Regions from separate parts of the Homo sapiens genome. Here regions 2, 3 and 4 are each reported to be linked to region 1. The links are microRNA targets in miRTarBase. Many come from high-throughput screens and were not tested one by one. Region 1 holds a microRNA gene; each other region holds the end of a gene's coding sequence.
Evidence for each region. Region 1 holds the annotated microRNA hsa-miR-4438 (CACAGGCUUAGAAAAGACAGU, at 1,137-1,157, shown strand). A microRNA usually pairs through its seed, bases 2 to 8, with sites in the 3' UTR of a target mRNA and lowers its output. Matches are read on the target gene's strand: a 7mer-m8 pairs with bases 2 to 8, a 7mer-A1 pairs with bases 2 to 7 and ends in A, and an 8mer does both.

Region 1 (3,130 bases):
ATATTCCACATAAAAAAGCTTACTAGAATTAATAAATGTATTCAGCAAAGTTGCAGGACACAAAATCAATATGCAAATATCAGTTGTGATTTCATATACTAACATAAATCTGAAACGGAAATTTTTAAAAATTGGGTTAAAATAGCATCAAAAATACATAGAAATATAAACTTAACAGGAGACTAAAGACTTGTTCTCTGAAAACTACAAACATTTCTAAAGAAAATAAAGATGGTAATAAATAGACATATATATTCATGAATTAGATGACTTAATATTGTTGTCCATACTACTTAAAGCTATCCACAGGTTAAATACCATCCATATCAAAATACCCATAGCTGTTTTTTTTTTCTGAAATAGAAAAAGCAATTCTAAAATTCATATGCAACCGCAGAGAACCAAAAAGAGCCCAAACAATCTAAAGAACAAGCTGGAGGTCCTGCACTTCCTGACTTCAAAGGATATTACAAAATTACAGTAGTTAAAACATTATGGAGAAATAGTTATAGAAATATGGTGGAGTAGGAAGCACCAGGAATCTGTCTTCCCACCTAGAGAACAATTGTACTGGCAGAATCTGTCTGATATATAACTATTTTGGATTTTTGACATCTACTAAAGGCTTGCAACTTCTAGGGGAAAGCTTGCATGGCGAATTATGATTAATTTCAGTCAATTTCAGCACTTAACCACAGTAGTAGCTACCCATTTCCCACAGTCACCCCTGTAGCAGGCAGCTGTGCACATGTTACTGGAGCAGTCTGCACAGAGCATGCAGGAACCAGAGTGGGCAAAAAAAGGACCTGTCATCCAAATATCGGCAATCTTTGCTCTGATTGCTGATTGCTGTTTCTGGTCACAAAGATGGACGCAAAGAGGTGAGTGGTTATTGTTGCACCTCTATCCATTATTGCAAGCCCCTCCCTGCTGGCTGAAGTGACTTCCAGAAGATTAAAAGGGCCAGTGCCCTTCTCCTACTTTATTTTTCTGTTTTTCCCCCTTTGACAGCTAGACATTAAAAAGTAGGGCATTCAAAGTAACTGCACATATGGTGACAATCAGAAAATGACTAAGTTACTAAGTGTAAACTTAAGGACTGTCTTTTCTAAGCCTGTGCCTTGCCTTTCCTTTGGCACAGGCTTAGAAAAGACAGTCTTTAAGTTTACACTTCAGACTGATTCTTGGCACAGAGATAGCCTACAACAGAATCCTCTTATGACAATATAAAAAGCAAAATCATTGACTGAAGTAACCGCAAACTCTCAGTAAGAGGGAGAATCTAATTTTTAGAGTTACTATGTTATTAGATCCAAAATCACAATTCATACAAAAAATTAAGAAACTATGTCTTGTCCAAAGGAAAATATGAAATCCCTAAAATGACTTGATGGTGGATCTGCTACAGAGGGACTTTAAAATAATTGTGTTAAATGATCAAAGAACTACAGGAAGATATAGAGAAAGTCAAGAAAATGATATATGAACAAAATGAAAAAAATTCAATGGATAGGAAACCTCACAAGAAGTTAAAAAAAATTGGGAGCTGAAAAGTACAACAACTTAAATAAAAAATTTACTAGAGCGATTCAAAGGAAGATTTGAGCAAGCAAAGGAAACAGTCAGTAAACTTGAAGATAGGACAATGGAAATCAAGGAACAGAAGGAAAAAGAATTGAAAAAAGTAAACAGAGTCTAAGGGACCTGTGTGACACAATCAAGGAGTCACAGGAGGAGAGGAGAAAGAGAAGAGAAAACTTGAAGAAACAACGGATAGAACCTTTCCAAATCTGATAAAAGACATTAATATAAACATTCAAGAAATCCAACAGAATTCAAGGAAGATGAACTCAAAAAGACATAAACTGAAATACATTATAATCAAAGCTTTAAAAGGTGGAGACAAAGATAGAATCTTAAAAGCAGCAGAAAAACATCAATATATTACTTATAAGGAATAATCAGTAAGATTATCAGTATATTTCTCACCAGAAACGTTGCAGGCCAGAAGGCAGTGGGCTGACATTCGAAGTGCTAAAGAAAAACAAAAACAGAAAACATTATCAAACAAGAATCTTATATCCAGCCAAACTGTCCTTAAAGTGAGGGCGAAATTAAGACATCCCCAGGAAAACAACAGTTGGGAGAGCTTGTTACCATTGGACCTGACTTGCAAGAAATCCTCCTGCAGAGTGAAATGAGAAGACACTAGACAGTAACTTGAAGTTGTGTAAAGAAATAAAGATCTTAATAAAGGAAAATACATAGAAAATTATAAAAGCTTATATTATTGTAACAATACTTTTTAACTGCACTTTTCGTGTTCTACATGCTTTAAGAGGTTAATATATATATATTTAAATTTGTATAAAAGTTCATATTATGCTTTGTAACTCCAATTTTGTTTTGTACATAATTTAAGAGACTAATGAATTTAAAATACTTACATGTTTATATTTTTGTATAATACATAAAGATATAATTTTGTGACATCAAAAATTGAGAGGGTGGGGGAATGGAGCTTTTGAAGGAGCCGAGTTTTTATATATTATTGCAGTTATGGTGGTACAAATTTAAATTAGAATGTTATATATGCAGGATCTAAAATATAATCCCTATGGTAACCACCAAGAAAATAGCTATATACAAGGAAATGAGAAAGAAATTTAAGCAAATCACTAAAGAAAATAAAATAGACAACTAAATATAAAAGATAGTAATGCAGGAAATGTAGGGAAACATCTATAAGCTATAACGAATTCAAATAGTGGCTGGGCGCAGTGGCTCACACCTGCAATCCCTGCGCTTTGGGAGGCCGAGGTGGGTGGATCATGAAGTCAGGAGATCGAAACCATCCTGGCCAACATGGTGAAACCCTGTCTCTACTAAAAATACAAAAAATAGCTAGGTGTGGTGGCACATGCCTATAGTCCCAGATACTCATGAGGCTGAGGGAGGAGAATCACTTGAACCCAGGAGGCGGAGGCTGCAGTGATCCAAGATTGTGCCATGGCACTCCATCCTGGGTGACAAAGCAAGACTCTGTCTCAAAAAAAGAAAAAAAAAAGAATTCAAAAATAGTAAAATGACAGAAGTAGCTTCCTTCTTTTCAGAAATTACTTATAAATTG
Region 2 (3,130 bases), not on the chromosome of region 1:
CCAGCTTGGCAAACATGGCGAAACCCTGTCTCTACTAAAAATACAAAAATTAGCTGGGCATGGTGGTGCATGCCTGTATTCCCAGCTACTTGGGTGGCTGAGGCAGGAGGATCACTTGAACTTGGGAGGTGGAGGTTGCAGTGAGCTGAGATTGTAATCCCAGCTCCTCAGGTGGCTGATGCAGGAGGATCACTTGAACCTGGGAGGTGGAGGCTGCAGTGAGCTGAGATTGCACCACTGCACTTCAGCCTCAGCGACAGAGTGAGACTCTGTCTGAAAAAAAAAAAAAGAAGCAGTGCTATAGATTTTGATACTTGAAAAATCTGAAGGCTGGGTGTGGTGGCTCACCCTGTAATCCTAGTAATTTGGGAGGCCAAGGCAGGCAGATCTCTTGATTCCAGGAGTTCAAGACCAGCCTGGGAAACATGGTGAAACCTTGTCTCCACAAAAAACACAAAAAGTAGCCAGGCATCGTGATGTGTGCCTATAATCCCAGCTACTTGGGAGGCTGAGGTGGGAAGATCACTTGAGCCCAGGAAGTTGAGGCTGCAGTGAGCCATGCACTGTAGGGTGACAGAGTGAGATCTTGTCTTAAAAAAAAAAAAAAAGAAAAGAAAAAGAAAAAAAAAGAAAAATTGGAAGCAGTTTTAGGGCACCTACAGCTTCTACAAGGCGCAAGTGTTAAAGATTATCATCCTCAATTAAGATTCTTCCATGGAACAAAGCCTCCATGTCACCCCAGAGATTACATGCTCACAAACGTTGCAAAGTTTAAAAAAAAAAAAACTAGCTTCCTACAATGTTTCTAATTAAATATCTGCAAATATGAAGACAGCCTTCAATGCTTAAAGATCTTCAGTCCTCAAATTGAACAGATTCTGACATTAGTATTATTTAGACTGCTCCAAAAATTCAGTATCTGCAGTCAGAATCTGTTTCTTCCAATATAGTTGATCATGTTGACATCCTGTCAAGATTCGAGTTAGCCTGAGGTCTCACTGCTTATCTGTGGTGTCACACATCTAGCTGACTCAACACATCACAACATTAGGCACGATATTGCAATAATCATCATTACACTTTTGTTGGGTGAATGTTAACACATTTTCAGGTCATTAAACAAAAGCAATCTATGAGTGTTGAAAGAAAAGATTTATAATGCTCTAGGTGACATGTATTATGTGGGTGGGTCTGTACTGAATATGTGTAGGGTCTTTCTCATATCATGATTCACTAAACAATATAATAACAACTATTTACATAGCTTCTATGATGCATGATGTATTTTAACTAATCTACAGATGATTTAGAGTATACAGGAGGATGTGGGTAGGTTACATGCAAATATTTTTTATTGTTATTATTTTTTTGAGACAGGGTCTCATTCTGTTGCCCATGCTAGAATGCAGTGATGTGATTTTGACTCACCGCAACCTCAACCTCCCAGGCTCAAGCGATCCTCCCACCTCAGCTTCCCTAGTAGCTGGGACTACAGGTACATGTCACCACACCTGGCTAATTTGTGTATCTTCTGTAGAGACAGGGTTTTGCCACATTACCCAGGCTGGCCTCTAACTCCTGGGCTCAAGTGATCCACCTGTCTTGGGCTCCTAAGGTGCTAGGATTACAGAGGTGAGCAACTGTGTCTAACCCAAATATGTCTTTTCTTTCTTTCCTTTTTTTTTTTTTTTGTGTGTGTGACAGAGGTTGTTTTGCTCTTGCTGCCCAGGCTGGAGTGCAGTGGCGCGATCTTGGCTCACCGCAACCTCCGCCTCCCGGATTCAAGTGATTATCCTGCCTCAGCCTCCTGAGTAGCTGGGATTACAGGCATGTGCCATCACATCCGGGTAATTTTGTACCAAATATGTCATTTTTAAAAAAGGACTTGGCATGTGTCGATTTATGTATGCCCAGGGGGTGGTAGAACCACGCTCCTGCAAATATTAGGGGATAACTGTATTTGAAAGAAACTGAGGCTTAAAATTAAGGCTTTACTATGTGTTTACATTCATAGGGTTTATCTCCAATGAGAATTATTTCTATCTGAAATGAAATAACATTAAAGAATACTTCCCTACATTTCACACATTTATAGAGTATCTCTCCAGTGAGTCCTTTTATGTCTATGCAAGGACCTGAGAGAACTCAATGCTTTTCTACATTTCTTACATTCATATGACTTCTCTCCAGAGTGAATCCTTTCATGTACTTTTTTTTTTTTTTTGAGACAGGGTCTGGCTCTGTCGCCCAGGCTGGGGTGCAGTGCATCTTGGCTCACTGCAACCCCCACCCCTTGGGCTCAAGAGATCTTCCCACCTCAGCCTCCCAAGTAGCTGGGACTACAGGGGCATACCACCACACCTGCTACTTTTTCTATTTTTTGTAGAGACATGGTTTCACCATTTTGCCCAGGCAGGCCTCAAATTCCTGAGGTCAAGCAATTTGCCCACCCTAAGTGCTGGGATTACAGGCGTGAGCCACTGTGCCCAGCCTCATGTACTTTTAAGTTACCAAAATGACTGAAGGCTTCCCTACATATTTTACACTCACAGAGTTTTTCTGCTCTGTGAGTTGTTTTATGTTGACAATGGTGTTAAAAAAAAATCGATCACTTTCCCACATTCCTTATATCATACAGCATCTCTCCAGTGTGAGATATTTCATGATTTTGAAAGGAATAAAAATTATGAAAGGCTTTCCCACATTTACATTTATAGGGTTTCTGTCCAGTGTAAGTTTATTCATGATATCAAAGGGAACTGGAAATATAGAAGGCTTTATAATAGTTTACATTCATATTGTTTCTCTCCAGTGAGTCTTTTCATGTCTTTGACATACACTGGGATAAACAAAGGCTTTCCCACATACCTTGCATTTATTCGGCCCATCTCCCGTATGCATTACCATATGTCTTCGAAAGCTTGAGCTATGAGATAACGCTTTCCCACACTGCTTGCATTCATAGGGTTTCTCTCCACTGTGAGACTTTTCGTGTCTTTGACATACACTAGGATAAACAAAAGCTTTCCCACATATCTTGCATTTATGAGGTCCACCTCCAGTGTGCATTATCATGTGTCTTCGAAAGCTTGAGCTATGAGATAACGTTTTCCCACACTGCTTGCATTCA
Region 3 (3,000 bases), not on the chromosome of region 1:
GGATGGGGGTGGGGGCGGGTACCTTTGCTTTGTCGCTAGGGCTTCATCTCCAGGCTGGGGGTGCCAGCATCTCCCACTTTGGCCTTGCCCTTGGACTCGGCCTGCCGTCGGTTCTGTTTCCTGACAAGATCCAGACCCTGCCCCCACAGCAGAGCTGGGAGGGGGATGGGCTGGTGGGGGAGACATAGCCCCACCCCCACAGTAACTGGGAGGAGGGGTGGGGCATGAGCAAGCCAGCTTCCCCGGGGCGCGCTGTCTGACCCTGCCCCGCGCCTCCTCTCACCCCCAGATCTAGCGCAGCTGCGCAAGAAGTTCGAGGAGGACAAGCAGAGGATCGAGCTGCTGCGGGCCCAGCGCAAATTCCGACCGTACTGAGCTGTGAGAGCCGCAGTGAATGGCTGGAGGTGCAGGGCCAGGAGGAGGCGAGGCAGGGCCTGCAGCGGTCTCTGAGAGGCCGAGCTCTGGCCAACGGGCCCCAGGTTGAAGGCCACCGCGTCCAACAGCCCCATCAGAGTCCACACAGGCCAGGAGGGAAGGACCAGGCCACCCCTCGGGTCTTGTGCTTCAGCAGTCCTGGGGACCCAGGCGTGCCGAGAGGAGGACTTGTCCTTCCTGCTTCTTGCCTCCACACCCTCCTCTCCAGGACCCTGGATGAATCCGTTCTGTGCTTCCTTTTCCCTCAATGCAAAAGCCCTTGCTGGCAACGAAAAAGCCTCAAAAGCAGTGAGAATACAAGAACCTTTTATTTTCCATCCAGTTGGGCAGCAGGGAAAGGCTAGGTGGGCCCAGCCCGCCCTTCCTTCCTCCAGCTGGCTGGAGATTATTAGCCAGGAGACAGCAGCCCTGGAACCCAGACTCTGTCTCCCCCTTGAGGTCACAGATGTTGAAGTTGGAATCTCGCTCCTTCCCCTGACTACCATCCTAGGCTGGGCCTCAAGACTAGTGAGGCCTGTCCCCACCATCCCTGGCCTTGTTGTGGGGCTCAGGAACTCAGAGTCCCAGTGTTGAGTCTGGGAGCACTAGGTCTTCATAGTTCCAGGCCCAGAGCTACAGCTGGGCTGGGAGCGTGTGTGTGCACTGTAAGAAGGAGCTGATGATACTGGCCACGTGCTGGGGTTCGCTCATGTGGACACAGTGATTGCCTGGGACTTCCACAAACTGGAACCGCTGGAGAGGGGAGGGGGTGGGTAGTGAGATGTGGCCAGAGGAGCCTAGGGAGCTCCATGGGCCCCGGGGTCAGGGCCCTCCCACAGCATTCCAGCTCCCTGCAGGTCAGGAGCGCCTCCCACAGTGAGTTTCCCCCACACTCGGCTCCTTGGAGCCCCGACAGTCCATAGCACCCCAGGAGATGTCTAACCTTAGGGACTTGGAGGCCTCCCAGGGGTCTAGGCCAGCTGAGTTGTGAAGTTGCATGGCAGGGACAGGGCAGGGCCGAGGCCAGGGTTGCTGTGATTGTATCCGAAGTAGTCCTCGTGAGAAAAGATAATGAGATGACGTGAGCAGCCTGCAGACTTGTGTCTGCCTTCAAGAAGCCAGACAGGAAGGCCCTGCCTGCCTTGGCTCTGACCTGGCGGCCAGCCAGCCAGCCACAGGTGGGCTTCTTCCTTTTGTGGTGACAACGCCAAGAAAACTGCAGAGGCCCCAGGGTCAGGTGTAAGTGGGTAGGTGACCATAAAACACCAGGTGCTCCCAGGAACCCGGGCAAAGGCCATCCCCACCTACAGCCAGCATGCCCACTGGCGTGATGGGTGCAGAGGGATGAGGCAGCCAGGTGTTCTGCTGTGGTTTGGGAGCCTATAAAGTGAGACTAGGCTGGGCATGGTGGCTCCCATCTGCAAAACCAGCACTTTGGGAGGCCAAGGTGGGCGGATCGCCTGAGGTCAGGAGTTTGAGACCAGCCTGGCCAACATGGTGAACCCCCATCTCTTAAAAATATAAAAATTAGCTGGGCATGGTGGCAGGTGCCTGTAATCCCAGCTACTCAGGAGGCTGAGGCACGAGAGTCGCTTGAACCCGGGAGGTGGAGGTTACAGTAAGCTGAGATCTTCCCACTGCACTCCAGCCTGAGCGACAGAGTGAGACTCCATCTCAAAAAAAAAAAAAAAGTGTGACTATTAGCTGGGCATGATGGCATGCGCCTGTAGTGCCACCTACTCAGGTGGCTGAGGTGGGAGGATCATTTGAGCCCAGGAGTTTGAGGCTGCAGTGAGCTATGACTGAGCCTGAGCAACAGAATGAGACCCTGTCTCTCAAAAAATGTGGGACTGTCTCTGGCAGTTGGGTCACCTAATTGTGCCTGGCCCCAAGAAGGAGGGGTGGGTACTTGAGGATGGTAAAGAACCTCCCCACCAAAGGTCTCTGTTTCTTAAATTCTGATTACATGTGTCCCCAGGCCTCTAGGGACTGATCACTGGAGCATGAGGCCTGATAGATCCTGGTGGTCACTTGTTGGGCCTGGGGGCAGACCAGGGGTCTTTCCCAGTGCATGAGAAGAGATGGGTGAGGTGGGACCAGAGTGGGCGACAGTGGCTGGACACCAGCTGCCTGAGCCCCGCCTTACCTCTTTGAGGGTGGATTTCATTGTGTCTATCATGAACGACAGGGACTCCTTGTCAGAGTAATTCTCTCTTGGATCAAAATATCCGTGGACTGCTCTGGAAAGTGAGGAGTTGGGGGTTGTTGGGGTTCATCTTAGAACCGCCTCCCAGCGGTGCCCCCATCCTGCCCTGGGTTCAGGCCTCTGAGGAGAAACCAAAGCCTGGGCTACCCCAACTCCCACAGCTGGGTCCCTTGACCCTGGGTTGGATTTGAGGCTCAGTTAATCTCAGCTCACGCTCAGCTGGCACAAGCCAGGCGCAAGCAAGTGCTGAAGGCACAGCCTTGCTGGGGCGCAGGGAGTTCAGGACTTGGTCACAGTCAGCCCTGAACAGCAGAGCTGGGATCTGAACAGGCGCTGGAGCCCACACTTGCTCTGAGAGAGAATTTATGTCTTCACAATCC
Region 4 (3,130 bases), not on the chromosome of region 1:
CTGCCGCAACCTCTACCCTCCACAGACAAGGTTCTGCAAAACAGTCATGGGACCTTGTTTCACCTCCCCCACAGGCACCCAAAATAACCTTCCTGACCTGCAGCAGCATTTTGCAATCTTTGAGAACCCCTGCCCCCTGCTGACAAACAAAAATGGCAAATAGACTCCCCCACACCACGCCTCCACGCCCTGAGCTGAGAATCGCCCGCATCTCGTGGGTGGTACCAGAGCCAAGACGACAGCCAAGCTTTGCTTTCTCAGCTCTGTCTTATAAAAGCAACATGGTTGGCTGGTTGGTTGCTGATTCTCCAAATATGAAATCACGATATTACAATGTGCACACTTTGTGAGGCCGAGGTAGGTAGGTCGCTTGAGCCCAGGAGTTCGAGACCATCCTGGGCAACATGGTGAGACCTTCTGTCTACAAAAAATACAAAGATTAGCCGGGTGTGCTCGTGCACACCTGTAGTCCCAGCTACCCGGGGCTGAGGTGGGAGGATCACTTGAGCCTGGAAGGAAGGGGCTGCAATGAGCCGAGATTTCACCACTGCACTCCAGCCTGGGTGACACAGCGAGACTTTGTCTCAAAACAATAAATAAATAAAATGTGCACACATCTCAGGTGGGTCCCCCCTCACCCCTGGGAGGTGGGCACGCTCCGTCCCCTCCCATGTGGCAGTCCCTGGATTGGAGCAGTTTCCCCTCCCGACCCAGGGCAGAGGTCTCCAGCTTCACGGAGGCATCCTGGCTGAACGTGCCAGCATTCACTGGAGCCTTCTTGAGTGGGGGCTTCCAGTACCACATCCTGTGGACTGAGGGGCTTCACGCACATTTATTCTCATTCAGTTCTCTGGGCCGCAAGTCTGAGATGAAGGTGTGGCCAGGGCTAGGTCCCTCCAAGGCTGAAGGGGATCTGCCCTGGGCCTCTCCCAGCTCCTGGTGGTGGCCGGCATCATTGGCCTTCCTTGCATGCATGTCTGTGTCCAAATACTTTTTTTTTTCTTTCTAAGACAGAGTCCCACTCTCACCCAAGCTGGAGTGCAGTGGCATGATCATCGGTCACTGCAGCCTCTTAACTCCTGGGCTCAAGTGATCTTCCCTCGTCATCTCTCAAGTAGCTGGGATTATACGTGTGCACCACCACAGTCACTTTTTTTTTTTTTTTTTTTTTTTTTTTTGAGACGAGTCTCGCTCTGTCACCAGGCTGAAGTGCAGTGGTGCAATCTCGGCTCACTGCAACCTCCGCCTCCCTGCAACCTGCGCCTCCCAGGTTCAAGCGATTCTCCTGCCTCAGCCTCCCAAGTAGCTGGGACTACAGGCACGCAACACCATGCCCGGCTAATTTTTGTATTTTTAGTAGAGACGGGGTTTCACCATGTTGGCCAGGATGGTCTCGATCTCTTGACCTTGTGATCTGCCCGCCTCAGCCTCCCAAAGTGCTGGGATTACAGGTGTGAGCCACCACGCCCGGCCCACCACGATAATTTTTTTTTTGTAGAGACGAGGGTCTCACCATGTTGCCCAGACTGGTCTTGAACTTCTGAGTTCAAGCAATCTTCCTGCCTCGGCCTCCCAAAGTGCTGGAATTAGAGTAGTGAGCCACTGCACGTGGCCTCAATCCCCCACTCCCCCGCTTCTTTTTTTGAGACAGAGTCTTGCTCTGTCACCCAGGCTGGAGTGCAGTGGCACAATCTCGGCTCACTGCAACCTCCTCCTCCTGGTTCAAGTGATTATCCTGCCTCAGCCTCCCGAGTAGCTGGGACTACAGGCATGTGCCACCATGCCCAGCTAATTTTTTGTATTTTCAGTAGAGATGGGGTTTCACCGTGTTAGCCAGGATGGTCTCGATCTCCTGACCTCGTGATCCGCCCGCCTCAGCCTCTCAAAGTGCTGGGATTACAGGCGTGAGCCACCGCGCCCTGCCCCAGGCCCCCTTTTTTTAAGGACCCCAGTCCTTGAATTGGGGCCCACCCTACTCCAAGATGAGATCATCTGAACTAATTCCATCTGTAATGATCCTATTTCCAAATCAGATCATCTTCTGAGGTCCTGGGGGTTAGGACGTGAGTTTATGGAAGGGGGGGTGCCGCGACTTGCCCCCTAACACTTCCCTTCCCCCAGTTCACCGTGTGAACCCGTAGTCCTTGTGCGAGGGATGAAAATCCCAGGCGACATGATCCAAGTGGGAGGCAGCAGCTTTTGGCTTTTACATCAAGCGACCCAGGGGTCGGCGTGGCCCAGAAAGTACAAACGGGTGAAAGGTGGTCCCCAGAGTAGGGCCCCAAATTCCTCTCCCCATTGGGCGGGGGCCAGGAGGAGAGGTGACATTGGTGTTTGAAACAGCTGCTACAGATGCCTCAGCATCCTCTCAAAGGAGACAGGTCACCCATCTGTCTAGGGGAGTTTGGCCGGAGTCCGATTGGGAGAAAAGAGGTGGAAAAAAACCCACAAACCCCACCCGCGCCCAGCAGGAGAGCCCCAAAAGGCGCGAGGGGCGCGGTTGGGCGGCGCCGGGGTTCAGAGGCTGCCCTCGTCCAGCATCCGGCCCAGGCCCTCGCAGATCCTGCGCAGGTGGGAGCGGTAGGGCTCGGCGGGGCCGTAGAGCGCAGCCAGGAAGTCGCAGTCGGCTAGGTGGCCGAACACGTGGTTGATGCGGCCGTGGGACTTGGCGGTCAGGTGGGGACCCACGGCCTGGTGCAGCAGGTCGCGGCACTCGAGCAGCCCGGCGGCCAGCACGCGCCGGTCGAAGGTGAAGTCCACCTGGTGGAAGCTGACGGCCGTCATGGCCAGGCAGCGCGCCCGGTGGCGGAAGCGCCGCAGCAGCGCCAGCTCCTCACCGCCCAGCTGGTCCCCACGCAGCAGCAGTCCCAGCTTCAGGGCCACCTTGACCAGGTTCTTGAGCATCTTCTGGGCCTCCTTGCGGCTGCGCGTGAACTCCCTGGTGGCGCGGTACAGCTCATCCAGCACCTCACTGCTGGTGTCATCCACCAGCACGGCCACCACTGCCTTGGACGCCATCTTACTCAGGAGCTTCTTCTGCGCCTGCAGAGCCAGGCTCTTGGTGCTGAAGGTGTCCATGGCCTGCGGGGGACACAGACCAGCCCTCAGTTTTGCACGTTGGGGCACTCCT

Region 2: miRTarBase lists ZNF563 as a target of hsa-miR-4438. Seed matches in the 3' UTR shown: 7mer-A1 at 2,466-2,472 and 7mer-A1 at 1,823-1,829.
Region 3: miRTarBase lists RRP7A as a target of hsa-miR-4438. Seed matches in the 3' UTR shown: 7mer-A1 at 1,964-1,970 and 7mer-A1 at 2,137-2,143.
Region 4: miRTarBase lists TNFAIP8L1 as a target of hsa-miR-4438. Seed matches in the 3' UTR shown: 7mer-A1 at 1,898-1,904, 7mer-A1 at 1,764-1,770 and 7mer-A1 at 1,314-1,320.

Annotation. Positions count from the first base shown.
Region 1 is chr2:213,756,986-213,760,115 of GRCh38, forward strand. MIR4438 (microRNA 4438) reads left to right here and starts at 1,082; the gene lies at 1,082-1,174. The region is part of intron 10 of SPAG16 (sperm associated antigen 16); the gene reads left to right.
Region 2 is chr19:12,315,801-12,318,930 of GRCh38, forward strand. It overlaps ZNF563 (zinc finger protein 563), which reads right to left. Exons shown (of 4, transcript NM_145276.3): 4 at 1,677-3,130. The coding sequence ends at 2,794. Among named protein-coding and RNA genes, the nearest start is that of ZNF563, 16 kb to the right of the region's middle.
Region 3 is chr22:42,510,285-42,513,284 of GRCh38, reverse strand. It overlaps RRP7A (ribosomal RNA processing 7 homolog A), which reads left to right. Exons shown (of 7, transcript NM_015703.5): 7 at 290-3,000. The coding sequence ends at 375. It also overlaps the pseudogene SERHL. Among named protein-coding and RNA genes, the nearest start is that of RRP7A, 8.0 kb to the left of the region's middle.
Region 4 is chr19:4,651,818-4,654,947 of GRCh38, reverse strand. TNFAIP8L1 (TNF alpha induced protein 8 like 1) reads right to left here. Exons shown (of 2, transcript NM_152362.3): 2 at 1-3,081. The coding sequence starts at 3,078. The coding sequence ends at 2,518. Among named protein-coding and RNA genes, the nearest start is that of TNFAIP8L1, 14 kb to the right of the region's middle. RefSeq lists a silencer at 167-216.